Homo sapiens: one gene and its partners. The protein of the gene in region 1 purifies or fractionates together with the protein of each later gene. This does not show direct contact. Each region holds a gene or a part of one and is shown in the gene's direction. Other genes may lie near its edges.

The links.
Region 2: the proteins of NKAIN1 (region 1) and ATP11C purify together in Homo sapiens (affinity purification with mass spectrometry; one large-scale study listed by BioGRID and IntAct). This does not show direct contact.
Region 3: the proteins of NKAIN1 (region 1) and PARP16 purify together in Homo sapiens (affinity purification with mass spectrometry; one large-scale study listed by BioGRID and IntAct). This does not show direct contact.
Region 4: the proteins of NKAIN1 (region 1) and ADCY6 purify together in Homo sapiens (affinity purification with mass spectrometry; one large-scale study listed by BioGRID and IntAct). This does not show direct contact.
Region 5: the proteins of NKAIN1 (region 1) and ZDHHC9 purify together in Homo sapiens (affinity purification with mass spectrometry; one large-scale study listed by BioGRID and IntAct). This does not show direct contact.
Region 6: the proteins of NKAIN1 (region 1) and C3orf33 purify together in Homo sapiens (affinity purification with mass spectrometry; one large-scale study listed by BioGRID and IntAct). This does not show direct contact.
Region 7: the proteins of NKAIN1 (region 1) and ATP12A purify together in Homo sapiens (affinity purification with mass spectrometry; one large-scale study listed by BioGRID and IntAct). This does not show direct contact.

The regions. Positions count from the first base shown.
Region 1 is NC_000001.11:31,237,088-31,241,190, reverse strand, and holds the start of NKAIN1 (sodium/potassium-transporting ATPase subunit beta-1-interacting protein 1 precursor), read left to right. Parts: upstream 1-1,303; 5' UTR 1,304-1,643; coding exon 1,644-1,697; intron 1,698-4,103.
Region 2 is NC_000023.11:139,730,554-139,734,053, reverse strand, and holds part of ATP11C (phospholipid-transporting ATPase IG), read left to right. Parts: intron 1-1,528; coding exon of another isoform or gene 1,529-1,618; exon of another isoform or gene 1,619-1,619; intron 1,620-2,298; coding exon 2,299-2,400; 3' UTR 2,401-2,403; intron 2,404-3,500. UniProt on the Homo sapiens protein: Catalytic component of a P4-ATPase flippase complex which catalyzes the hydrolysis of ATP coupled to the transport of aminophospholipids, phosphatidylserines (PS) and phosphatidylethanolamines (PE), from the outer to the inner leaflet of the plasma membrane.
Region 3 is NC_000015.10:65,257,599-65,260,241, reverse strand, and holds the end of PARP16 (protein mono-ADP-ribosyltransferase PARP16), read left to right. Parts: intron 1-696; coding exon of another isoform or gene 697-699; coding exon 700-835; 3' UTR 836-2,143; downstream 2,144-2,643. UniProt on the Homo sapiens protein: Intracellular mono-ADP-ribosyltransferase that plays a role in different processes, such as protein translation and unfolded protein response (UPR), through the mono-ADP-ribosylation of proteins involved in those processes.
Region 4 is NC_000012.12:48,779,090-48,782,589, reverse strand, and holds part of ADCY6 (adenylate cyclase type 6), read left to right. Parts: coding exon 1-19; intron 20-3,500. UniProt on the Homo sapiens protein: Catalyzes the formation of the signaling molecule cAMP downstream of G protein-coupled receptors. Functions in signaling cascades downstream of beta-adrenergic receptors in the heart and in vascular smooth muscle cells.
Region 5 is NC_000023.11:129,809,387-129,812,886, reverse strand, and holds part of ZDHHC9 (palmitoyltransferase ZDHHC9), read left to right. Parts: exon of another isoform or gene 1-66; coding exon 67-169; intron 170-1,377; coding exon 1,378-1,481; intron 1,482-1,885; coding exon 1,886-1,982; intron 1,983-3,500. UniProt on the Homo sapiens protein: Palmitoyltransferase that catalyzes the addition of palmitate onto various protein substrates, such as ADRB2, GSDMD, HRAS, NRAS and CGAS. The ZDHHC9-GOLGA7 complex is a palmitoyltransferase specific for HRAS and NRAS.
Region 6 is NC_000003.12:155,775,279-155,778,778, reverse strand, and holds part of C3orf33 (protein C3orf33), read left to right. Parts: intron 1-2,930; coding exon 2,931-3,078; intron 3,079-3,500.
Region 7 is NC_000013.11:24,686,908-24,690,407, forward strand, and holds part of ATP12A (potassium-transporting ATPase alpha chain 2), read left to right. Parts: intron 1-1,411; coding exon 1,412-1,615; intron 1,616-2,354; coding exon 2,355-2,468; intron 2,469-3,430; coding exon 3,431-3,500. UniProt on the Homo sapiens protein: The catalytic subunit of a H(+)/K(+) ATPase and/or Na(+)/K(+) ATPase pump which transports K(+) ions in exchange for Na(+) and/or H(+) ions across the apical membrane of epithelial cells.

The DNA.
Region 1 (4,103 bases):
ACGTTGGCCAGGCTGGTCTCGAACTCCTGAACTCAGGTGATCCACTCACTTTTGGGAGGCCGATCTCCACTCAGGTGGAGGTTGCAGTGAGCTGATTCAGCCTCCCAAAGTGCTGAAATTACAGGTGTGAGCCACCGTGCCACGTTTCTTCTTTAATATTCTTTAGAGTATTCATCAGAACTTTGCGTATTTATTTGTATATTTCCTTGTTTTAATGACAATCCCTCACTAGACTGTGTGCTCAATGAGGGCAGAGATTTTGTCGGGTTTTGTTCCCTTATCCCCAGCAGAGAACCTGGCACATAGTGGGTATTTCATAAATGTTAGTTGGAAAGTACAGTTTATAGAATGTAGTGACAGATCAGATGTAATTGTAGGGAAGCCTGGAGGATGACCTAGGAAATTCCACTTGGGTGATGCTAATTGCCAAGGTGAATATAGGAAGTTAGGAGTGGGACAGGAATGATTATGTGGATTTGAGATGTGTCCAGTTCGAGGGCTTTTGGGGGTGGCTTGGAGAAGGCAATCTTCTGCTGGGAAACTTCTGACTCTGTCCCTACTGCAGCCCAGGGTAGGGGCTCCCTACCTCCACCTGGGCAGATCTCTGCCATCACCCATCTCACTGGCGTGCTCTTGGGAGCCTATCTGTTCCCTGGGCGGTGCAGCTCTACGGGATTTGGAACAGTGTTGCAGGTCTCATCTCTGGCTCGCAGGGCCCCCAGGGGTGTGTATGCAGTCAGGGCTCAATAAATGCCAGTAGACGGAAAGAAGGAAGGCGAAAAATGTGGCCAGACACTCAGGGGAGAGGCTGGGGTGAGGAGCAGATCTGGGAACGTAAATAGAACTAGAAGTCCAAGTTGGAACCCTGGAGCCCTAGAGACAGGGTGGACAAAAAAGTGTTCCAAGCCAGGAGGCCAGGCACAGGGCTAAGCGCTTTATTCACATGACTGCATTTCATCTTCATATCTACACTAAAGAGGCATAATTATTCCTACTTTGTTCATGAGAAAACAGGTCCAGAGAGGTGACGTGATTTGCCCAAGGTCACACAGCGAGTGAGCAGCAAAGTCTGGATTTGACTCAGGGCTGTTGTCCCCTAAGCCCGCACGCACTCTTCCACTTCACTCCCTGCCTCTCCAACCCTCCACCTCCCTATCCCTCTCCCCTCCCCTCCGGCGGCTCCCCCGCCCCACCCCTCTGCCGTTCCCCCCAACTCCCTCCCTGTCGGTGGCGGCGGCGGAGCCACGTGGTGGGGCCGGGAAGCCGCGGCCGACGAGAGCCCGGGCGACTGCCCCAGCTGGGCAGTGCTGCTCTGCGCTGCGCCGCGCTCGGGGCTCGCTCTCCTTGCTCCGCGCTCCCCGCCAGCCGCCCCGGGGCAGGAGGCGCGCCTGACGGACGGCCCGCTAGACAAAGGAGGCGCGGCTCGGCGGGGCCAGCGCGCGGACGGACGGACCATGGACTCGGAGCGCGGGCGGCCGGCCCCAGCCTTGGGGACCGGACACTCCCGGGCCCGGCCCTAGGCGCCCGGCCCCGCCGCCCGGCGCGCCCAGCGGGGAGGACGTGGAGCCCGCGCGGCGCGAGCAGGCGGCGGCCGCGGAGCAAGAAGGGCGCCGCGGCGTGCGGCCCGCGCAGCCCCCGGAGCCATGGGCAAGTGCAGCGGGCGCTGCACGCTGGTCGCCTTCTGCTGCCTGCAGCTGGTAAGCGTCGCGTGCCCAGGCAGTCGGGGCAGGGTGGGGCGCGGCGGGGCGCGGTCCCAGGGCGTGCGGGTGGGGTTGCGTGTGTCTCTGTGTGTGTGTCTGGTGCGTGTGCCCGGGCGGGGGGTGGTCTGGAGTCTCGGAGCGGTCGGGCGGAGCCTGCTCCCGCTGGCCGGGCTGTCTCTTTGTGTGCGCTTCTCGCTGCTGTGCCCGGCGCTCCTCCGGTCCCCAAGTGCGTCCTGTGCGCGAGTCCCCGGCCCGCCCGCACTGTACAAGTGGCCTCCTGTTGGGGGATGCGCTGTGGGACGGTGGCTTGCTGGGACTGGGGGTGTGTCTGAGGCTGATCTGTGGATCCGTTGAGGTCCTGCTGTGTGTTTCCCTCTAGATCCCTCGTTTGCATGGGTCTCTCCCTTCCTCTGGGTCTCTGCCTCTGATCACCACCCCTGTGTGAGCGTTTCTCACAAAGTCTCTGCTCCGGCGTGTGTCTCTCAGGGTTTCTCTTTGGTGTGTCTCTAAATCGCTGACCATTTCTGGCCCATGTTCATCTGTGTTCTGGGATCTTAGACTCCAAGAACCCTCCAATCCTTTGTGTTGTTTCTGCCTCCCTTCACCTTCCTGACCGGGCAGTCCTGGGAAAGGAGAGCCACCTCCCTGGAGAGGGTCACCAGGAGCTGCCAGATCCTGGGCCAGCCTGACCCAGCCTGGACCACACTTCCTGCTTTGGTCTGGCCGCTGTGGCCATGGGGGTTCCATCAGTCATCAGTTCCACCCACCAGAGCAGCTCCTCTGCCGGGGCCAGCAACAGTGGGGATGGGGACACTTGGGTGCCCTAGGGAGGACCAGAGCATCTGAGGACACTGTGCCTAGCCCCAGCATAGGGAACTCAGGTTCTTGTCTCAGGGAGGAGTGACTGTAGTGGACTAGAAGAAACAGCACTGCCCTTCAAATCAGGCCCTGGCAGGGGAATTTGGGAGGGTGGTTAAGGAGAGGCAGGGGTCTCCTACCTACCCTAGAGCTGAGATTGAACAACTAGGGAGGTTGAAGCTGTGCTTCTCCTCTAGGCAGAGGTGCATGGGGACCTCCATCGCCGAACCCAGGTCTGAGAGTGGGCAGCGAGGAGCCTGAGCCCCCCTCATGCTGGACTCCTTGTTCTGGGTTTCCACTCTTGCCTGCATCCATCACGCCCTCCCCACCACAGGAGCCAATGATAATGTAGAGTGAAGTTTTGAGCCTGGACATGCAGACCTCCTCATTCGTCTTGCTTCTCTCCTCCTGGGGACACCAGCTTCAAACATGCCATCCACAGACCTGGCCTGGGCAGTGGTGGAAACAGCCCTAGCTCTGGAGATTGTAGCCCTGCTCCCAGCTGTGGGAGACTGGACAAGTGACTTCCCCCCACTGGCCGGCCTCAGTCTTCTTATCTGTAAAATGATTATCCCTGAGGATTGCAGAGGGAATTAATTAAGATCAGGTGGAATGGGAACTCCAGAAGGGCAGAGATTGTCTGTTTTTCTTTATCTACTTTGAGGAACATGAAATGCCAAGAAATGTTTAAACCTTTCAGAGGATTCTTCTGTGTTTGTTAATTTTTTAATTTTAAACTAGGGGTTTTTTTTAATTAGAAAAGTAATATACATATATTGTAAAAAATAAATACATACATAATCAAACAGGACAGATAAATAAAAAGTAAGTTTTCTAGGCCAGGCATCGTGGCTTATGCCTGTAACCCCAGCACTTTGGGAGGGCGAGATGGGCAGATCACCTGAGGTCAGGGGTTCGAGACCAGCCTGGCCAACATGAAGAAACCCCATCACTGCTGAAAATACAAAAATTAGGGGTGGTGGCACGCATCTGTAATCCCAGCTACTCGAGAGGCTGAGACATGAGAATCACTTGAACCCAGGAGGCGGAGGTTACAGTGAGATGAGATCACGCCGCTGCACTCCAGCCTGGACGACAGAGTGAAACTGTGTCTCAAAAAAAAAAAAAAAGTTTTCTTCTCTCTATAACTAGACCCCTCCCCAAAGGTGAACCTGTTAGCAGTTTGTCCCATGCTCATTCTCTGTTGGCGATAATAACGGTTAGCTTTGGAGAGCCCTTGACTAAGTGTCAGGTACTCTTGGAAGCACTTTTCCAGGTATTAACTCATTTAATCCTAACAGCCCTATGAAGTAACTTGTCCAGAATTCTACAGGAACTAGGACCCAGGCTTTGTTTTGGGGGTTTTGTTTTTGTTTTTGTTTGAGACATGGGCTCACTCTGTCATCCAGGACAGAGTGCAGTGGTGCAATCATAGCTCACTACAGCCTTGACCTCCCAGGCTCAAACAATCCTCCCACCTCAGCCTCCTGAGTACCTGGGACTACGGGGGCACACCACCATGCCTAGCTAATTTTTTTGTGTTTT
Region 2 (3,500 bases), on another chromosome or scaffold:
GCTGGTGTCAAAGCTCTCTAGATGACTGCAAAGGAATGTGGAAATTTCATTCTGTTTTAGCTCATTATCTCCTGTTTACCCCACCCCACTGCCGGTTGCTAGCTATATCAATTTTTTTATTGCTTTAGTTACTCTTTCCATGCTTTCTCCTGCTTTCTGTACTTTCATTTCCTTTATAAAGTAGTTTTAACACCTAATCTATTAACTCCTAATATTTCTGCTTCATAGAAATACTTTTATCTCCGATGGTTGGATACAAGTGTTTGAGCACACCAAAACGTGCTTACAGTTGCAGTCTTGAATAGATAGGTTTGTGCATTAAACACGGGGGTGGGGAACTTGGTATCATGCTGATCTTGTCGCAGGGTTTTTGCCCATAAAATAGAAGATAGAAACAATTAAAATCTTTTTCTCAGAATCTAAATATTCTCTAGCTTTATCAATTGGTAATTTGCATTCTATCAATATGTCTATCAACTTTCTTCATTCCACCAACTTTCTTCATTTAAGGTAAAAACAAGAAAAAATGTAGTTGTCAAAACATGAATAAATTATTTACCTTTGAAAGTTTAATTGTTTATTAGAATCTTCTGGAAACAAATGTTACTTTAGCTGGTTTCTTTTTCTAAGCCCATTTTAGGTCACTAAGTAGACAATATGGGTAATCTTTATTAGCAGAGTTGTTCAAGTCATCCACATTGTTGACCACTCATCTTCTGTTTTGCTTGGGCAATGCCAAAACTGAGTCTGTAAATTACCTTATAATTTCAGGCACAGAATCAGAAGGAAAAAAATAACCTTAGGTTTGCCAGTTAAACTTTATCCATTTTCACTTTTCTGGGTGTTTTAAGGGGAAAAAAAATAATACCTTACCCAGGTAAAATTTAGCCTATCTTTCTAAAGAGGACTCTGTAGGAAAAACAGGGAAACCAATCAAATTAGGTTGTAAGAAAGGAAGTTAAGCATTGGTCAGAGGCAAATGGGACTGAAATGTGGTATCACCAAATGTTTTCCCATTGTTATTTTTGATTAAGTTTTTATCCTGCAACTGCTTAAGAGCAGTCAGTCCCTTCATAGTGTATCTGTACAGTTGCATAGGGGAGATAATTACTTCAAGATAGATTGGTGATTGGCAATGGACCCTGGACATAACTCTTTGACCAATGGATTTTGAACAAATGTAGGATAGTGAATTAATGATTAGAGATAAGTCTTATTTTAACGAGAAGCATATTTTAAAGCTATTTTATTTAAAATAGTCAATTTTCCCATTAACAAAATAATTTCAAATTGATATGTAGAGAAATAGTAGTTGGCACGTAATAATAGACTATTCCTATCTCTGACTCTGCTTTTACTTCAGAAAATAATGTCTTCAAAACTAACATATCATTTCGGCTTCGAATTCTCAAGTTTTCTTTTTAAATGTCTTACATTTGAGAGATTATTTACTTTTTTTTTTTTTTTGGTTTCTGCATTTCTCTTTTTTCTACTGCAATTTTCCACCTTTTGTGCAATTGTGAACAAGGTAACGAAACGCCTCCCTTCCTCAGGAACATCTGCTATCTTCATGCTTTCTCAAACTTCCAGCAATCACAGTTTCTCTTGGAGTGAATAAGGTGATTTCCTTTCTTAATGTACCAACTTGCTTGCATTCTCATTTGCCTGACACCATTTTCTAATTCTTTATGAAAAATTACTTCTCATGACTCATTTTATATCTTCTATTGATGCTTAGAGTATTTTGTCATTTTCTTTTAATCATGTGTTCACCTTCCAAATTGTCACACTGGAGAGGAAGTAATTTTTAAAAGCTTGGACTACGGGTCTGTAGTCTTCATTGATCCACGGTATGCAGTGGCCATGGCGTGTTAGAGCTAGTCTGTTCACCAGGACAGGAATGTTTTGCACAAATTTCTCTTTGTTTGATAATACGGCACCGGCACAACTCTCAGAGGTGTTCACCAAAAGGATGGTAAGGTTTACTAATCAAACCATATTGACTCATCTTACCATATTACTTACCAGTGCCATTCCAAAAACCCAAGTTTACTACATACTACTGTTGTCTGTTTACTTCTACCACAAAAACAATTCGAGTTGGAGACTTTCTTAGGCCTTTGAATGTATTCATTTGAATGTTATACATTTACTATATAGTGTAATCATTTGTACTTTTGGCCAGAGGAGTAGTCTATAGGAAATGATTTTTTTCTTTTACCTTTTTTTAAATATATAATCACCAGGTAGGTTAACCAATTTTCAAATGCTTTAAGTATCTTTGCCTCACTATTACAGAGAAATCTGAGCTGTAGAAGGGCATCTGACTCATTATCCGCCAGACCTTCAGTCAGACCTCTTCTTTTACGAACATTCTCAGACGAATCTAATGTATTGTAACAGGTACCTAGTGTTAAACAAATGGGCTGGCTTTAAAAAATCGGATTAACAGCATTATAAAGAAAAAATGAAAATATCACTCTCTAAATTTTCTCTGCTGTTGGTGTGGTGAACTTTACAATATTCTTTGCAAAAATATAAAGATGCATTACTTGGAATATGGGGAAATATGCATTTAAAATATTAAACATTAAAATATGATAAGCCCCCCAAATAAAATGTTAAACATTTTTCAGAGCCAAATGTTGATACAGCATATTTAATTTGTAAGGGGCAAGTTGTCATGGCAAGGCCACCATGTGAAAATGTTTGTTAATATTGATCAGGAAATATAACTTTGATTTATAAAGATCATTTGGAAAACTAAAAGTAAATATTCCAAAATTGCATCTGTATAATATCAAGCCAATTTAGCATTGCATGTTCTCTTGGGAATTATGTGAAAATAACTAAATGTGTTTGTACCTTCATGTGCTGTGTCTGTGTGTTTGCAGGTACTGTATACACTTATGTCCTTGTAAATGTCTGATCTCCAAATATATATCAATGAACCAGTCTAATCATAACTTTTTTAATGTCAAGTTTTATTCAAGCTAAATGTTTCAACTTTCAGAGGTAAAATATTTCATAGCCATTCAGGGGGATGCTTGCCTAATGATATAAAATGCTTTATAATTAATGTTTCCAAAAATGATTAAATTCACTTTATAATGTTTCATTTACCCCCAAAAATATTTGGGAGGAATTGATACGCCGTGGGAGGGCCCCTTGAACTCAGAATGACTCCTTTATGTATAGTCTGTATTTCCTTCAGTGGGGGCCTTTAACAACTCAGACCTCTGGAGGTCTTTTATCCATCCATAGGAATTTAGAGTAATTAATGAACAAGGCTTCCAAGCTTGTCAGCTTGGAAACAACTCTACACAGCTTAAAGCAGGGCCATCTTTCATGCACACATAAAAATTAATGATCATCATGAATACAATTGTGGGTTAGTTCACTTTGAAGCTAATAATTGCGAGTCCACCTTATAGGCCCATTTTTTTCAACAGCTGTCAACTCTGCCACCCTCTAGCAAAGAATACAAGTTAAATTAATGG
Region 3 (2,643 bases), on another chromosome or scaffold:
GTAAGTAGATATGACAGGAAAAGGGGTCACTTTAAATAATCCCCACTCCTGCTTGTACACACCAGTGGTTTCCATGCTTCCAGACTTCATAAACCAGTAAAGTCTCCTCCCGACCCCTGTCCAAATTTGGGAAATGTATATAGGGTGCCTGGGTCCAGGTGACATTATGCTTTGGTTTAAAATCATCTAACTTTTTATCCTTGAAAATTCCATTCCTTTCCCACTTCTCCCTGGAGCATCTCTTTAGTGCACACTTGGGTGGTTTAGATCATCTCCTAGTGGGCCAAAGAGGATTTCCCCAGCTTGGATTTATATCTGCATGTGTCTAAAAGTGAAAAGACTTCAGCTAAATTACCTGCCACCTGCCACCATCTGGGCAGACACCCTGAGCTAGGTCATTGTTATAGATACCAAGATGGGTTGTAAATGGTAAAAGAGGAGCTACAAAAGGGAAGATCAGGATGAGCTCATTGCATAGCTGTCTTTGCGCATTTAGAAAATATCCTGTTGAAAGGCGTGTCAGTGCCTGGGCAAACAGCCCCAGGTTTCTTGAGCAAGGAAGCACGAAGCTTCATTTCATGGCTCAGGCAAAGGATGAAATTCATCATTTTGTCTTCTTAGAGCCAGACTTGTTGTACACACTTAAAAAAAATGTTTTTCTCTTTTTGCCAACACCACTCTTTTTTCCCTCTTAAGCAGGGCTTCGAGCCAGCTCTCCTGGTTTTCCAGCCATTGGTTTACCGTCATGATATCCCTGTATCTGCTGCTGCTGCTCATAGTGAGTGTCATCAACTCCTCTGCTTTCCAACACTTTTGGAATCGTGCGAAAAGATAATCTTTCTGGGCCTGGTGTGGGGGCTACCTCAACTATGTGCCTTATGGTAACTTGTTCTGTACCTCCTATGCCTCATGTCCAGCCAGGTTGAGCCTAGGGGCCAGTTGGGGGACCACAGGACAATTTTCATATGGCCTAAATGTATCCATTGCCTTTGATGATGTTCCCAGCCATACTCCAGTCAACGGGGACTACTAGTCCCTCACTCTTAGGTTTTAGGGGAGTCCTTCCATCTGCTCCTTCTTAAACTGTCCTAGGGAGTTGGCTTTTCAGCCAGGGCCAAAGGAAAAAGCCCTGCTGCATTTAAAAACAAAGTGTCCAAGCTGTCAGTGGTGTGTTTACAATCTCTCCTGGCAGAGGTTGGCCCTTTCTCTAATGCCTTCTGGAAGGCGGAAAATGTGGGAACTATAAATCACTAGGCGGTTGCCTTGTTTTGACTTGAGACACCCAAGAGGAACAGTCATGTTTCTCATAAAAATCAGTGGGATCATTTTTGAATTCCATCAGCCTTTGTATGTGAGTGCAAAACATTTTAACAGTTTTCTCAAATCAACAAACAGCCTTCTCCTATAGCTGTACTTGCCCCCCTCCCCAAAAAACCATGGATGAGAAAGAAAGGAGTCAGGGGCCTGATAAAAAATACAGACTTAATGAGCAACTCAAGATGAGAAAACTGCTCTTTTTCCAAAAATTACCAACTGCTGATTACAGCTGAAATGGAACCAAATGTTTGTTTTCTGATTTTTTTTTAATAGCTGTTTAACAAATTAGTCTTTGCTGAGTAAAAGGGGAAATTTCTAAACCTAGTGCACTGTTTGGCCAGTGTCCACAGCCTCTTTTCTGGCTGTGTTTTAGAGAAAGGGATTTGAGCTATAGGCTCGCCTCCTGTTCTCATTCTCACAAAGCTGCCTTGACTGTGGCCTGCAACCACGAGTGCCATGCTTTCAGGTCTTCTGTGGCCTACTGGCCTTCAAGACAGAGGCCTGCCCCAGTGTGCCACAGATCCATGTGGATGGAGCCTCCTTCAGAGGGGTCACAGGTCTTTGAGACTCAGCCTGGGCTTTAATGTGTAGGAAAAGCCTTCTGGCCACCCAGAGAGCCGGAGCCCTGCTTGCTGTATTCTCTGCTCCCTTCTTCCTGCTGGGTTTTAGCCATAATAGGGCCCGGTACGATTTGGGAGTGACATTTCTGTAAAGAAGAGGAAAAATCATTTTTCTATAATTTGTAAAGTTGTGAAAGAGCCACTACCACAGTTTTTACATTGATTATTGGAACATTTCAGAATAAATAAAGATATTTTCTTAATGATTTAAGTTGCCTTTGTGAGTGCTTTTAGCCTTAGTGTGAGTCTGCCCTATATGCCTTGTTGTTAAAAACTTTATCTTCCATCCTTCCTTGTTCAAACTAGCTGTTTGCTGGAGAGCATATATCACCAGGATATGATATCTAGGAGGTGTTGGATTTCTAGTTAATGACTTAACAAACGTGAGTACCTACTGTATGCCAGGCACTAGGAATACGAGCAGGATCAAAGTCAGAAAGCCCCTGCTTTCACAGAGCTGACAGCCTGCAAGGTGGGCAGATGGACAAACATTTCAAGAGTGAGGTTGGGAGTTTATGGTATTATAAAGTTTAGGGAAATACTTGGCAAGGAGTCCTAACATGGTCTAGGGTCAGAAAATACTCAGGTGACACATGTAACATTGCAAGGCACCTTACTATACTGGTTAATTTTCACAACAGGCCTTATCTACTTTTTTTTTTTTTTTTTTTTTTTGAGACAGAGTCTTGCTCTGTCACTCAGGCTG
Region 4 (3,500 bases), on another chromosome or scaffold:
TGCCTTCCTCTGGAAGCAGGTAGGTGGCCAGGGAGGTAGGGATGGAGGGCAGCAGGTGGGGAATTTCTCACCTCATAAGCAGGTGGGGGCTTAGTGAGGAAGGGCGGGTGAGTCATGGGTGGAAGCTGGGTGCAGGGATGTCTGGCTGTATCTGGGAGGAGGAGCAGGAGGTGGGAGGCTAGGGTTGAGGGGTCTGCCTCCATGTGGGATCTGGGGTAGAGGACACTGCTGAGGGGAGGGAGGGCCCCAGGACCCAAGCCTGAACTCTGTCACCATGGGCCCCAGTCTCCGGCTCTTTAGCCCGCTGAAATAGTGCAGTCTGTAGAGACAGAATGTGGGGCTGGAGGCAGGGGTGTGGTATATAGCCCCAGGGCCACCGTGGGGCTGAAAAGGCAGTGCAGGCTGTGTCCAGGCCTTAGCATCTCAGCAGGCAAGTTGACACCAGAGACTGAGGCGCTGGTGCTATCCCTGAAGAGCAGCTCTAGGTGGTGATCTGGAGGTATAGAGCAGGTTTTGGATGTTGTCAGCAAGAGAGGAGTCCCCTCTTTCCTGGACCAAGGCCACTTCTGGGAGGACAGGGAAGGTGAAGAGCTGGGGTCAGTTCTCTCTGGGCTGGATGTGGTTTGAATGGGGTTGGACTGTTGAAGAGAGGAGCGTTAAGTCTGATCGTATCCCACCTTCCCCATGCTGGGCACCAGGGACCTGGGCGCCTTTCCTTGAGGTTCTCTGTCCATGCCTGTTGCTGCCTCCAGGCTCCAAGTGTGTGTGAGGTGGGACTCCACGGCTCCGTGTGGAGTGGCTGTAGGCTGACCTGCTTATCCAGTGGGCTGTATTCTTTTCTGTGGGATCTTAGACAACTAGCCTCACCTCTCCCAGCCTTAGTTTCCCAGTCTGCAAAGCTGGAATAAAAATAGCATCTAGCTCATGTTGCTGTTGGGGCCCCACCCTTTCCTAGAGTGGAGTAGAACCCGACTGGGCAGTGTTCACACCTGGGGGCAGGGAGGTTTGGGGAGTGCTGGAAGGCATGGTACCCAGTGAAGGGGTTTCTGGGAAGTCCCTTTCAGAGAGATGTTAGTTTGTGGATCTGCCATCTCCTGTTACCCCCCTGCCCAGGGAGCAGAGGCCAGGGTCCTTCAGGCGCTGCTGTAGGCACAGCCCCGCCATCAGCACAGCGCCTGGGTCCTCCACTGGACCCTAACTAGAGAGTGCTGTCTTGCTCAAGGTTTTGAAGGCTTGTGGCCTGTTGCCCACCCTGCCTCAGGCACAGAGAGGAAGTTGCCTGGGGATCCCAGGGTGAGAAGCTAGGTTCTCTGGCATGATGCCCTTCTCCACCCAGCCTGTGCTGCAGAACAGAACTTACCTGTTTTTTTTGTGGTTTTTTTTTTTTTTTGAGACGGAGTCTTGCTCTGTCGTTAGGCTGGAGTGGTGCAGTGGCGCGATCTCAGCTCACTGCAACCTCTGCCTCCCAGGTTCAAGCGATTCTCCTGCCTCGGCCTCCTGAGTAGCTGGGACTACAGGAGCGCGCCACCATGCCCAGCTAATTTTTGTATTTTTAGTAGAGACAAGTTTCACCATGTTGGCCAGGATGGTCTCGATCTCTTGACCTCATGATCCACCCGCCTTGGCCTCCCAAAGTGCTGGGATTACAAGCGTGAGCCACCGCACCTGGCCAGAATGCCAGAATGCCAGAACGTACCTTTTTAAAAGTAACTTTATAGCCCGTTTGTTTGTGGAGCACGTGCCCTTAGGGCACTGTCAGACATCTTAAAGGGCCAGGTCCTTCTGCCCCAAAGCTTCTCTTCCAGGGTGGCTCTCAACCAGGGCTTTATGGCTGGACTGCCCTCCTGGGGAAGGAGCTTAGAGGTGGTGTCTCCTTTCCCCCTTCCTCTCTGGCCAGGCATGGGCTGGGTGGGCATCTGTTCCCTGCTCTCGACTGGCATGGTGCCCAGAGCCAGGCCCAGTGCCTGACTGGGGAGGTGCAGTCCCAGGGAGGCCAGGACTGTGCCCGTCTCCCCAGGAGTGTCTGGCTACAGCTTCATGTAGTGGATCTCGATAGGCACATTCTTGGGGCAGTGGCGAAATTCACTGCTGCCCCTGTGCCAGTCCTTGGGGCCAGAGCTGCCCATACAACTTCCTCTGGGCTGAGAAACATTCCCTGTGCCCATTTGGGTATGTGGGTTTCTAGACAGGTGGGGTTTGTGGCCTCCTTCCTCGTCTACTTGGGCAGCCCCTTCCCAGATCCACCCCTACTCACAATCACAGGAAGGAGACTTTGTCCCCTACCGACCCACTCATTTAGACATACTGAACAGTGTCACCCAGTGACCCAGGCCCAGCTTGGAGTCTCCTCCGGTCCCCTGGCATCCATTTTTTCTCATAGTCAGATAGGGATGTGTGTGTACAGAGTTATTTCAGTCTCGTCCCCCTTCCCCTTCCCTCCACCGTGACTCACATTTTCCTCTTGGGCTCCTGGGGCCAGGAAGGGAAGTTGCCTGGTTTGCCCCCCTTCCCTTCTCCCCCACTGGGGGCTATTCTTAGAAACCCCCAAGGGAGATAGTGTGCCCCTCTCTTCACCCCTGCTGCTGGGAGGGGGAGCTCAGCCTAGTTGATCCTGGGCCTGTGAGCTGGACTGGGAAGGGAAGCTAGGAGGCCCATCCCAGAGGCTGGAGCTGGAAATGGCTAGGGGTGAGCCAGGCCTCCCCCTCAGTTTTACCCAAGAGGAAACTGAGGTCCCAAAGTTTAAGTGACCTGCCCAATTTTGCAGGACTAGTTCTAGTTCAAGTTAGAGCCCAGAACCTCTGGCTTCCAGGAAGTGCTTCTGCTGTTTCTCTCCCTTCTCCTTAAACCAGAGCCCTGCCCCATCCAACTCTGGGGTGGAGCCGCAAGCTCCAGGTTAATTCCTGAGTTTCCAGAAACACTGAGGCCAGCTTCCCTTAGACTTGCTCTCTAGCCAGTGCCGCTGATGATGATTGGGGGCTGAACATTCCTAGGGTGGGGCCCTAGGCCTAGGGCCTGGCAGGGCTGAGTGTCAGAGGGAGTTACACCTTGAGGGGTGGCCAGGCATGGTGGACCCCATCTCCAATTAGGGGACATCCTTTGTATCAGTAGAACTGATGACTCTCAAGCCAGGGCTCTGAGGTTGGGCTTGAGAGCTTGACTCAGTAGAGTGAGTAGGAATCTTGGAAACCTGGAATGCACTACAAAGTATGGAATGCAGTAGATAGATAGTAGGATTAGGACACAGGATTTGGAATCTGATTGTCCTGGGTTCAAGTCTCACACTAGCCACTAACAGCTGTGTGATCTTGGGGAAGTTACTTGGCCTCTCTGTGCCTCATTCCCTTACCTTTAAAATGGGATATTGTTACCTATTTCACAGAGTTTTAAGAAATGTGTTAGGGGCCAGGTGCGGTGGATCATGCCTGTAATCCATGCCCGTAAGCACTTTGGGAAGCCGAGGTGGGCGGATCACTTGAGGTCAGGAGTTCAAGACCAGCCTG
Region 5 (3,500 bases), on another chromosome or scaffold:
GAATATGGGCGGAGGCATCAAGTCTCCTGATGTTGAGTTCTTCAATACTCCTTAACCACACCTCACTGTTCTAGAAGTCCTCATTTGCTTCTTTACACTCTGGTCCGTCGTGGGACTGACTGGATTTCATACTTTCCTCGTGGCTCTCAACCAGACAACCAATGAAGACGTGAGTCAACTTTCTCTTCTCCTCACCACATATTCTTCTTCCCAAAGCCTATCCTCTTGCTACCTGCTAGAGAACTACCGAGTCTCCAGGGCCTGGGAGGTTGAGGCAGGCAGAAACGTGGTATGCGAGGTTGTTAAGTCAGATGTGTGGAAGAGAAAGGAGAGGGCTTTGTTGAATGCTTGTGGAGCATTAGGAAGAAGAGGTTGAAAAGTTGGGTGGGTATACAGCCTTTAACTGTTCACAGGTCCTTAAAGGCTAGCTGGTGCCTCTGTTTGGCATGGAGAGGGACAGTTGCACTGGATGAATCCTTGCTATATAAAAAGTTACCAATTAGGCTGGGTGTGGTGGCTCACGCCTGTAATCCCAGCACTTTGGGAGGCTGAGGCGGGCGGATCACCTGAAGTCAAGAGTTCAAGACCAGCCTGGCCAACATGGCAAAACCCTGTCTCTACTAAAAATACAAAAATATAGCCGGATGTGTTAGTGTGCACCTGTAGTCCCAGCTACTCGGGAGGCTGAGGCAGGAGAATCACTTGAACCCGGGAGGTGGAGGTTGCAGCGAGCAAAGATCACGCCACTGCACTCCAGCCTGGACAACAGAATGAGACTCTGTCTGGAAAAAAAAAAAAAAAGTTAGCAATTAATCTACATTCACTGTAGAAAATCAGAAAATACAGATGAGCAAAAAGAAAAAAGTAAGTTCCTCTTACTTTACTTCTTAGACATCACCTTTGTTAGTAGTATGATTTATATATTCTAGACTTGTCTAGACTTTTTTCCATGTTTATTTATGTGTTTATATTATGTACTTTTAAATAAAAATAGTATATATCATTCAGTTATCTGCTTTTTTCACTCTATTGTGAGTATTTTTCATGGCTGTGTATGTATTTCTTTTTTGTTGTGATAAAATATACATGATATAAAGTGTGCTATATTAAATGTCTTTCAACCCTGGCGATCAATGGGGTGACAGTTGTTGCAGCCAGATCGCCCTCATATCCTAAATGTACAGTTCAGTGGCATCACATTGTTGTGCAACCATTGCCACCATCCATTTCCAGAACTTTTTTATTATCCCATGCTGCATGTGTTTCTTCAACATTATTATTATTATTTTTCTTTTTTGTGTCTGTTTTTAATTTTATTATTATTATTTGTTCATTTTAACATTATTTTTAATGTCAGCCTTGGTTTTTATCTTGCAGATCAAAGGATCATGGACAGGGAAGAATCGCGTCCAGAATCCCTACAGCCATGGCAATATTGTGAAGAACTGCTGTGAAGTGCTGTGTGGCCCCTTGCCCCCCAGGTGCTCAGGGCACTCAAAAGTCCTGGGACTGTTGGGATGAGCAGCTCAACCTGATCCTGTTACCTTGTCTGATGTGTTTTTCTGAGTGTGGCCTCTTGGTGTCAAATAGGTCTTTCCAGGGCTTGCCACTTGGTACCATGTCTACATGGACCATAGACCATGGGCTGGTTGTTTTGGAGGGATGATCTTTCATTCTTAATTTCATTTGTTTGTTCCCTGGTTAATGTGACATTTCCTGGTTTGTGGAAGAAAAAGTGAATGGGAGATAAGAGGCATGTGCTGTGTTCAGGCTAGATTGCCAAAGGACAGGTTTATATTTTCCAGTCTATGCAGCAAAATTCCGTAGGCCAGGTGGGTGGAGGGGTGAATGCCCAGTTCTTTGTTAACTCTCTTATCTCCTTCAGTGTGCTGGATCGAAGGGGTATTTTGCCACTGGAGGAAAGTGGAAGTCGACCTCCCAGTACTCAAGAGACCAGTAGCAGCCTCTTGCCACAGAGCCCAGTAAGTGTTCCTGACTTAAGGCTGGGTCGATATAGAGAGGGCGGAGGCTAATTTACAGCTTGGAAATATAATTAGGCAATATTGTATTCTAATCACCCCAGCTTCCCTGCCTCTACACCTGCCCTGATGTTGCCTTCAGATCTTTGTGTCCTTGATGTAGATTAAGATTTAGTCATTTCTTTGGTGTATATTGAGTGACTCTGTGCCAGCCACTGTACTAGCTGCCAGGGTTATACCAATGAATGAGGCAAACGATGTCCCTGCTCTCAAGGAGCTCATTGTCTAGTGGGGGCAAGAAACAAGTAAACAGGCCATTGCTCAACATTGTGAAAAGTGCCTTGATGAGGAAAGCATAAAATGCTATAGGGGCAAAGACAGAGGTCAGGGGATTGTATTAGAGTTAGTGATGTGGTTACTGTGGTAGAAGGGGGCTTCCTAACTGGAATATGCAAAAGTTGTGGAAACTCTCCCAGCTGTCCTATTTAAGATATATAAAGTATATCTTTAAAGTATATAAAGTACTTTCCTAAAAAAAAATATTACTTGAGCTTTTTTTTTTGAGATGGAGTTTTGCTCTGTCACCCAGGCTGGAGTGCAGTGGTGTGATCTCGGCTCATTGCAACTCCACCTCCCAGGTTCAAGCAATTCTCTGCCTCAGCCTCCGAGTAGCTGGGATTACAGGCGCCCGCCACCATGCCTGGCTAATTTTTGTATTTTCACTAGAGACAGGGTTTCACCATCCTGGCCAGGATGGTCTGCATCTCCTGACCTCGTGATCCTCCCGCCTCAGCCTCCCAAAGTGTTGGGATTACAGGCGTGAGCCACCGTGCCCAGCTGAGCTTTCTTTTTTTAATAAGAACTTTATTGAGATATGATTCACATACCATAGGTCCCAATTTTTTTTTTTTTTTTTTTTGAGACGGAGTCTCGCTCTGTCACCCAGGCTGGAGTGCGGTGGTGCAATCTCAGCTCACTGCAACCTCCGCCTCCCGGGTTCTCCTGCCTCAGCCTCCTGAGTAGCTGGGATTACAGGCATGTGCCACCACGCCCAGCTAATTTTGTATTTTTTAGTAGAGACGGGGTTTCTCCATGTTGGTCAGGCTGGTCTCGAACTTCTGACCTCAGATGATCTGCCCACCTCAGCCTCCCAAAGTAGAGGATTACAGGCGTGAGCCACTGCGCCCAACTGATCCCTATTTAAAATGTATGATTCACTGGTCTAGAATATTCACAGAGTTGTACAATCATTATAACAATCAATTTTAGAGCATTTTCGTTACCCTTCCACCCTAAGAAACCCTGTAGCCATTAGCAGTCACTCTCCCTTTCCCCTGAACTTCCCCAGCCACACCCCTAGGCAACCACTAATCTACTTCCTTTTAGTACAGATTTCTCTCTTCTGGGTATTTCATGTAAATGAAATCATACAATATGTGGTCTTTTGTGACTGGCTTCTTTTACTTAGCATGTTTTCGAGGTTTGTCCATGTTGTACTATGTAGCAGTACTTCGTTCCTTT
Region 6 (3,500 bases), on another chromosome or scaffold:
CCCTTAGTGTTTTCAGTAAACCATGTTGGGAACCATCTGACTATGTGCATATTTAATCTGTATTTCTCTGTTTTTCCCATAAACTTGTCATAAGCAACTTTGTCCTGTGATTCAAATTCTTTGTGGTTTGATTTAGCATTTCTCCTCTCTTTCATTTATATTCTGCATATTTCACATTCTTGAGTGAATATTGACAGTAGATCCAGAATCTTTTTCCTCCCAACTTTTTCTCCTAAAAAATTTTGTCACATTCATTTTCCTTTCACCTAGATTCACCAGTTGTTAACATTTTGCTACAGTTGTATTCTCTCTTCCTTTGTGAAACCAATTCAAAGCAAGTTGCAGACATCATGAGACATCATCCATAAATACTTCATAGCGTACTTCCTAAGAGCAAGGATTTTTCCTACATACCCACATTAATATTAGCACATCTAATAAATTTAACATTTCTGCACCAATCTTACATAAAATAAAGTTCATATTCAGATGTATTTTCTAAAAAAGGTCCTTTATTGTTTTTTTCCCAATCCAACATTCAAACAAGGATCATGCATTATATTTACTTGTTATGTCTCATTAGACTCCTTTAATCAAGAATATTACCCCTACTTGTTTTTTTTTTTTTTTTTTTTTTGAAATGGAGTTTCACTCAGGCTGGAGTGCAGTGGCACGATCTCAGCTCACTGCAACCTCCACCTCCCAGGTTCAAGCGATTCTCCTGCCTGAGCCTCCTGTGTAGCTGGGACTACAAGTACGCACCACCATGCCCAGCTAATTTTTGTATTTTTAGTAGAAATGGAGTTTCACCATGTTGGCCAGGATGGTCTCCATCTATTGACCTCATGATCTGTCCTCCTCGGCCTCCCAAAATGCTGGGATTACAGGTATGAACCATCGCATCTGGCCATTACCCCTACTTAAAAACAATTTTTTTCTTTCATGATGCTGACATTTTTAGAGTCCAAGCCAGTTGTCTTGTAATATGTTCTATAATCTGAATTTGTTTCTTGCCTTGTGAGATTCAGCCTAAGCATTTTGGCAAGAAGGTGATGATATGTACTTCCTAGTTTATGACATCAAAATTCATGAGGCAGGAGGATTGTTTGAGCCCAGGAATTTGAGATCAGCCTGGGTGACAAATAAAGACCCCATCTATACAAAAAATTTAAAAATTAACCAGGTGTAGTGGTGCACACCTGTAGTCCTACTTGGGGGGCTGAGGCCGGAGGATTACTTGAGCCCAGGAGGTCGAGGCTACAGTGAGCCAGGATTATGCCACTGAGCTGCAGCCTGGGCCACAGAGCGAGACCCTGTCTAAAAAAAAAAAAGATCTGTAATGTTAGTTTGTCCTTTAATATTATCACAGCTAATAAAATTAACAATAATCTCTTAGAATCATCTAATACCCAGTCTGTATTCAGATCTTGATTGTCACTATGATTTTTTTTTTAATTTTTTTTTTAGACAGAGTTTCGCTCTTGTTGCCCAGGCTGGAGTGCAATGGTGCGATCTTGGCTCACTGCAACCTCCGCCTCCCAGGCTCAAGCAGTTCTCCTGCCTCAGCCTCCCAAGTAGCTGGGATTACAGGCATGCACCACCACGCCCGACTAATTTTGTATTTTTAGTAGAGATGAGGTTTCTCCATGTTGAGGCTGGTCTCGAACTCCTGACCTCAGGTGATCCTCCCGCCTCGGCCTCCAAAAGTGCTAGGATTACAGGCATGAGCCACCATGCCCGGCCAATTGTCACTATGATTTTTAAAAATAGATGATCTATTCAAATAGTCTATATATTTTATTTATTTCTTAAATCTCATTTATTTTATAGTATCTTGCCACCCTTTTTTTCCAATGCCATTGATTTGTTGGGAAAACCAAGTGATTTATTCTATAGTATATTCCACATTCTGGGTTTGTCTCCTACACTATTCTTGGTTATAAAAATCTTCAGTTCAACCTTACTGTCATAGGAAGTTGGGTACTAATTTATTCTTTTTTTTTTTTTTTTTTTTTTTTTGACAGAGTCAGGTTCTCGCTCTGTCACCCAGGCTGGAGTGTAGTGGTGCTATTATGGCTCACTGTAACCTTAAACTCCTGGGCTCAAGTGACCCTCCTGTTCTGTGTTACCATGCCCAGCTGATTTTTACATTTTTTTGTGGAGATGGTATCTTGCTATTGTTGCCCAGGCTGGTCTCAAACTTCTGGCCTCAAGTAACCCTCCAACCTAAGCCTCCCAAAGTGCTGGGATTATAGGCATAAGCCATCGTGCCTGGCTTTTCCTTCTGTTATGTGAGCCTCTTAACTAGCCATAATTATGAACAAAGCTTATGGTATTGTTAACGTGGAAAAAATAGGCATAAAGTGTTGATTGATTCCAGGATATCACCTAAGTGTTAGGGATTGTAGTACAGTCCTAATGTTGGCCTTTTTTTCGTTTTTCTTTTTTAAATGTGCCTTTTCTCCTACAAGATAAAAAAATGATAGTAAAAAAACCTGGTTGGTTAAGGTTCTAACTTAATTTGACTGAGCTTTGTTTAAGTTTTCCCGTCAGTATATGCATGAATAGATTGTACTTATGTGGAACAAGCTAGAGACTGTTTAACCAGATTTGTGTGGTGCCAGGCATAGATAGATACTCAATGTCTTTTGATGAATTGTGTCATATTTTGAGGTTATAAGCTTTTAGAAGTTAGGAGTCTGTTTAATGTCTTTATGTGGTTGGCTTGAAAATGGTGAATAATGATTTGTAAATAATGTTTCCATAAACACTTTTGATTAAATCATATTAAAGTAATATAAAATTAGGAACTAAATTTTAAAATGTTCATGGTTATGTACTCTTGTGAAATGTTTTGATAATTTGACATTTTAAATTTTGAGATGACAATAATAATAAGTGGTTATATTTTTCTCCCTGTAAATCAATAGACATCAAAATTTACAAGCTCTTCGGATATTCCAGTAGAATTTATAAGAAGAAATGTTAAACTACGTGGACGATTACGCCGAATAACTGAGAATGGTTTAGAAATTGAACATATACCTATTACTTTACCTATTATAGCTTCATTGAGAAGTAAGTAAGGTACAAGATTAATGAAACTAACTATTGTGGTCTTCTTTTATTAGAAGTTATTTATAAAATAGCAAAAAAAAGTCATTTTAATTCCTAATAACTCTCCATTGTCCATGAGAAAGTCTCAATTCTTGGCTTTATATATAAGGAGGTGGGAGGTGCTTAATTTGGCTCAGATTTCCTTTCTTCTTTCGTTCCTTTTTTTTTTTTTTGAGACAGAGTTTCACTTTTGTTGCCAGGCTGGAGTGCAATGGTGCAATTTCGGCTCACTGCAACCTCCGCCTCCCAGGTTCAAGCAATTCTCCTGCCTCAGCCTCCTGAGTAGCTAGGATTACAGTCATGCACCACCACGCCCAGCTAATTTTGTATTTTTAGTAGAGATGGGGTTTCTCCATGTTGGTCAGGCTGGTCTTGGACTTCTG
Region 7 (3,500 bases), on another chromosome or scaffold:
GGGGCAGGGAGGTGAGAGCAGGGAAGGCAGGAGGGTGGAGGCGATGATGAACTTATTGTGAGTTATACCAGGAGAAGTCTCTCCGGAACACCCCTGAGGAAATGTTCCACAGTTATTCAGAAAGATGAGTCTGGGGTTCTGGAAAAGGAATTGGAGTGGAGGGAGATGGGATCGAGGTGGTGAGCCTGAATCTAGCCATTCAACAGATATTTGAATCACTACCACAGAAAAAGCATGAGACCCGGGAGAGAACACAAAAATGACCAAGACTGGCCTGTCATGGTGGCTTAGGTCTGTAATCATAGCACTTTGGGAGGCCAAGGTGGGCAGATCACTTGAGGTCAGGAGTTCGAAACCAGCCTGGCCAACGTGGTGAAACCCTGTCTCTACTAAAAATATTTTAAAAATTAGCCAAGTGTGGTGGCCGCTGCCTGTAATCCCAGCTATTTGGGAGGCTGAGGCAGGAGAATCGCTTGAACCCAGGAGGAGGAGGTTGCAGTGAGACGAGATCGCACCAGTGCACTCCAGCTTGGGCAACAGAGCGAGACTCTGTCTCAAAAAAAAAAGACCAAGACAGAGTCCTGCCCTTTAAGTAGCTTACAACATAATTAGGGAGAAGAGGTATCTACAGACTTGTCCACCAAAGATCGTCTGTGGGGGAAATTCCTGTGAACATGTAGGGTTTCAAAGGTGAGGGTGCCTCACGGATGGCAGGCCCCCCAGGGCAGGGGCTGCTCACATGGGCTCAGGGCTTGGGTAGGATTTATGCCTGTCAAGATGAATGAGAACTTAGGCTGGATGTGTAGAAAGGTGGAAAAGGAGCAGGCGTAAGGATGGAAACTAAAGCCACATGCTCTCTGTGCAGGATTCCAGAAGCTTCCCTATTTCCTGGGGAGTTACTGCATTGCCCTTAGCCCTGGTGAGCAGCTTCTTCATTCCAAGTCCTCCTTCATCAAATTAGTCCTCTCACCGGATAAACCTCTAAGAAACTAAAACCCCTTAGCAGAGCAGAGTGCAGTGGCTCTGGACCCAGTCACCACGTTGAACCTGGTCGCTACCATTGACAGGCCAGGTCCCTTCGACAGGTTACGTAATTTCTCTGTGCCTCAAATTCCACCTCTGCGAATGACGAGAGGGAGGAATAATGGCCCCTGCCTCAAGGGTTATTTTAAAGACTAAATGAGTGAATATACAGAGCACAGTGCCTGGCTGGTATTAAGCATTACATAGTCTTTCAAAAAAGCTGGGCAGCTGGAGAAGTGAGGCACGGTCTGCTTTTCTCGGGACCTTCTTTGGCCACGTTAATGCCTCACCCCAAGCTGCAAAAATATGCAGCCCAACCCCTGAGGGAGGAGGAATGTCTAATTCGTATTTGTTTTGGTTGTGCATGTGCTTTGTTTGGCTTTCCCAGGGTCTCTCCAGCACCAGAGCTGCCGAGCTCCTGGCCCGGGATGGGCCCAACTCCCTCACCCCTCCCAAGCAGACGCCTGAGATCGTCAAGTTCCTCAAGCAGATGGTGGGGGGGTTCTCTATCCTCCTGTGGGTGGGCGCCTTTCTCTGTTGGATTGCATATGGGATTCAGTACTCCAGCGACAAGTCTGCATCCCTGAACAACGTAAGGCTCTGGGGTGTCCCCTCCTGGTTTTGCTGGCAGAGCCATCCAGTGAGGCCTTGGGGGCACAGCTGGGGGCTGAATGCCACTGCCTAGGTGTGGGAAAGTCAGGCATTTTCCCAGCTGTAAAACAGAAATTCTATCTGGCTTTCTGATCTTCTAGAGGCAGTGTGGGCATGAAGAGGGATACACAAAACACCTTGAATTTTTAAGGGGGAGAAAATCTGCATCCATGTGAAGTAGTTTGGGGTTCTGTCTCCCCCAAGCTAACCTCTTCCTTTAACACGGAGAGCAGCTGTGCCTGCCGAGACATGAGTACCAAATCCACAAAACTGAATTGGCCAACGTGATGCCAAGAGACAGAAGCCAGAGGCAACAAGCTACATGTCATAGGATTGGATTGACATGAAATGTGCAGAACAGGCACATCCTTGGAAGCAGGAACCAGATCGGTGATGCCAGGGCATGGGACAGGAGCAGGGAGTGACGGCAGAGGGGCCGGAGGGATCTCCAGGCAGGATGGAGATGCTCTGAGGCTGCGGTGGAGGGTGGTGTCATGGCTCTGTAAACTTAAAAAAAAAAATCAATAAGTTGCGCACTTAACATGGGCGAATTCCATGGCCTGTAAATTATACCAGGGCGTAACTGCCAGCATTGCATCCTCCCGTGGAGAGCTCTAGCCCCAGGGCCCGGCTGCTTCCCACTGCTGGTTTCTCTGACTGACGCCCTCCTTCTCACCCAGGTGTACTTGGGCTGTGTGCTTGGTCTGGTGGTCATTTTAACGGGGATCTTTGCTTATTACCAAGAGGCAAAAAGCACCAACATCATGTCCAGCTTCAATAAGATGATCCCTCAGGTGAGTGGCAGCCACCTATCCTCTGGCCTCTGGTGACTCCCAGGTGAGGAAGCCTCAGCTGGGAGGGGCACAGGGCCCTGAGGGCTACGGGTTTCCACTTCCTTCCCTGTCGGAGCAATCGTGGGCGAATTAACCCATCTGTCAGAACCCCAGTTCCTCACAGGATTTTGATGGTCAAATGAGGCACCACCCAGGGCAGTGCTGGTTAGCCCAAGGCATCTTCTGTTCCTGCTCCTCAGTGTTTGTGGATAGTCCTTCTGGGTTCTGGAAGGGACCTGTGGAAGGTCAGGGAGTGTTCTTTCACTGGCAGCCAAGGAGACCAGCCTGCAATTGTTTATCTGTGACCATTTTTGCTCCTGAGCCCCAGAATGCATTTGGTGGGGAAGCCCAGTGCTCCCTTCTTCCCCAAAAACCCCTGTCAGGTGTCCACACTGTCTCTGGCCCAGAGAACTGTGGGCTGGAGAGATTCTGGGTGGAAAAGACGCCTCCTGCCAAGCTTGAAGCAGGAGATCACCTCGTTAAAATTTCCCTGACACTCGCAAGATTATCAGCCTCCCCAGCCCCACCTTCAGTGTTCTGCCCAGACGCCCAGCCAGGATTGCTCACCCTTAGTGGTCTCCTTTTCTAGGAGGCCCAGGGCTCTGGCTTGGCCAGATCTGGCCAACAGCGACTCTTCTGTTCCAAGAACTCTCCATAAGCTCAAGAAAAAGTAGTTCTTAGAGTCTTCAGGCCTCGGGTGAAGCAGTCTTCTGTTTCATTCTTGCTGTTCTGACAGCCTCATGCTCCAGCAGCAATGCTGTGTCCACAGGGCCAGGTGCAGGCTGCATAACAGCATGGACTCAACAGTGAGAGTGATCAGGAAGTTCCAAGGCCTCTGTCCTGGGGTTCGGTGCGGCACAGACTTGGGGGAGGGCCGGTGTCCTTCCAGGGTCTGAGGCATCTGTCATGGTTTTTTTCTGCAGCAAGCTCTCGTCATCCGAGATTCCGAGAAGAAGACCATCCCTTCAGAGCAGCTGGTGGTGGGGGACATTG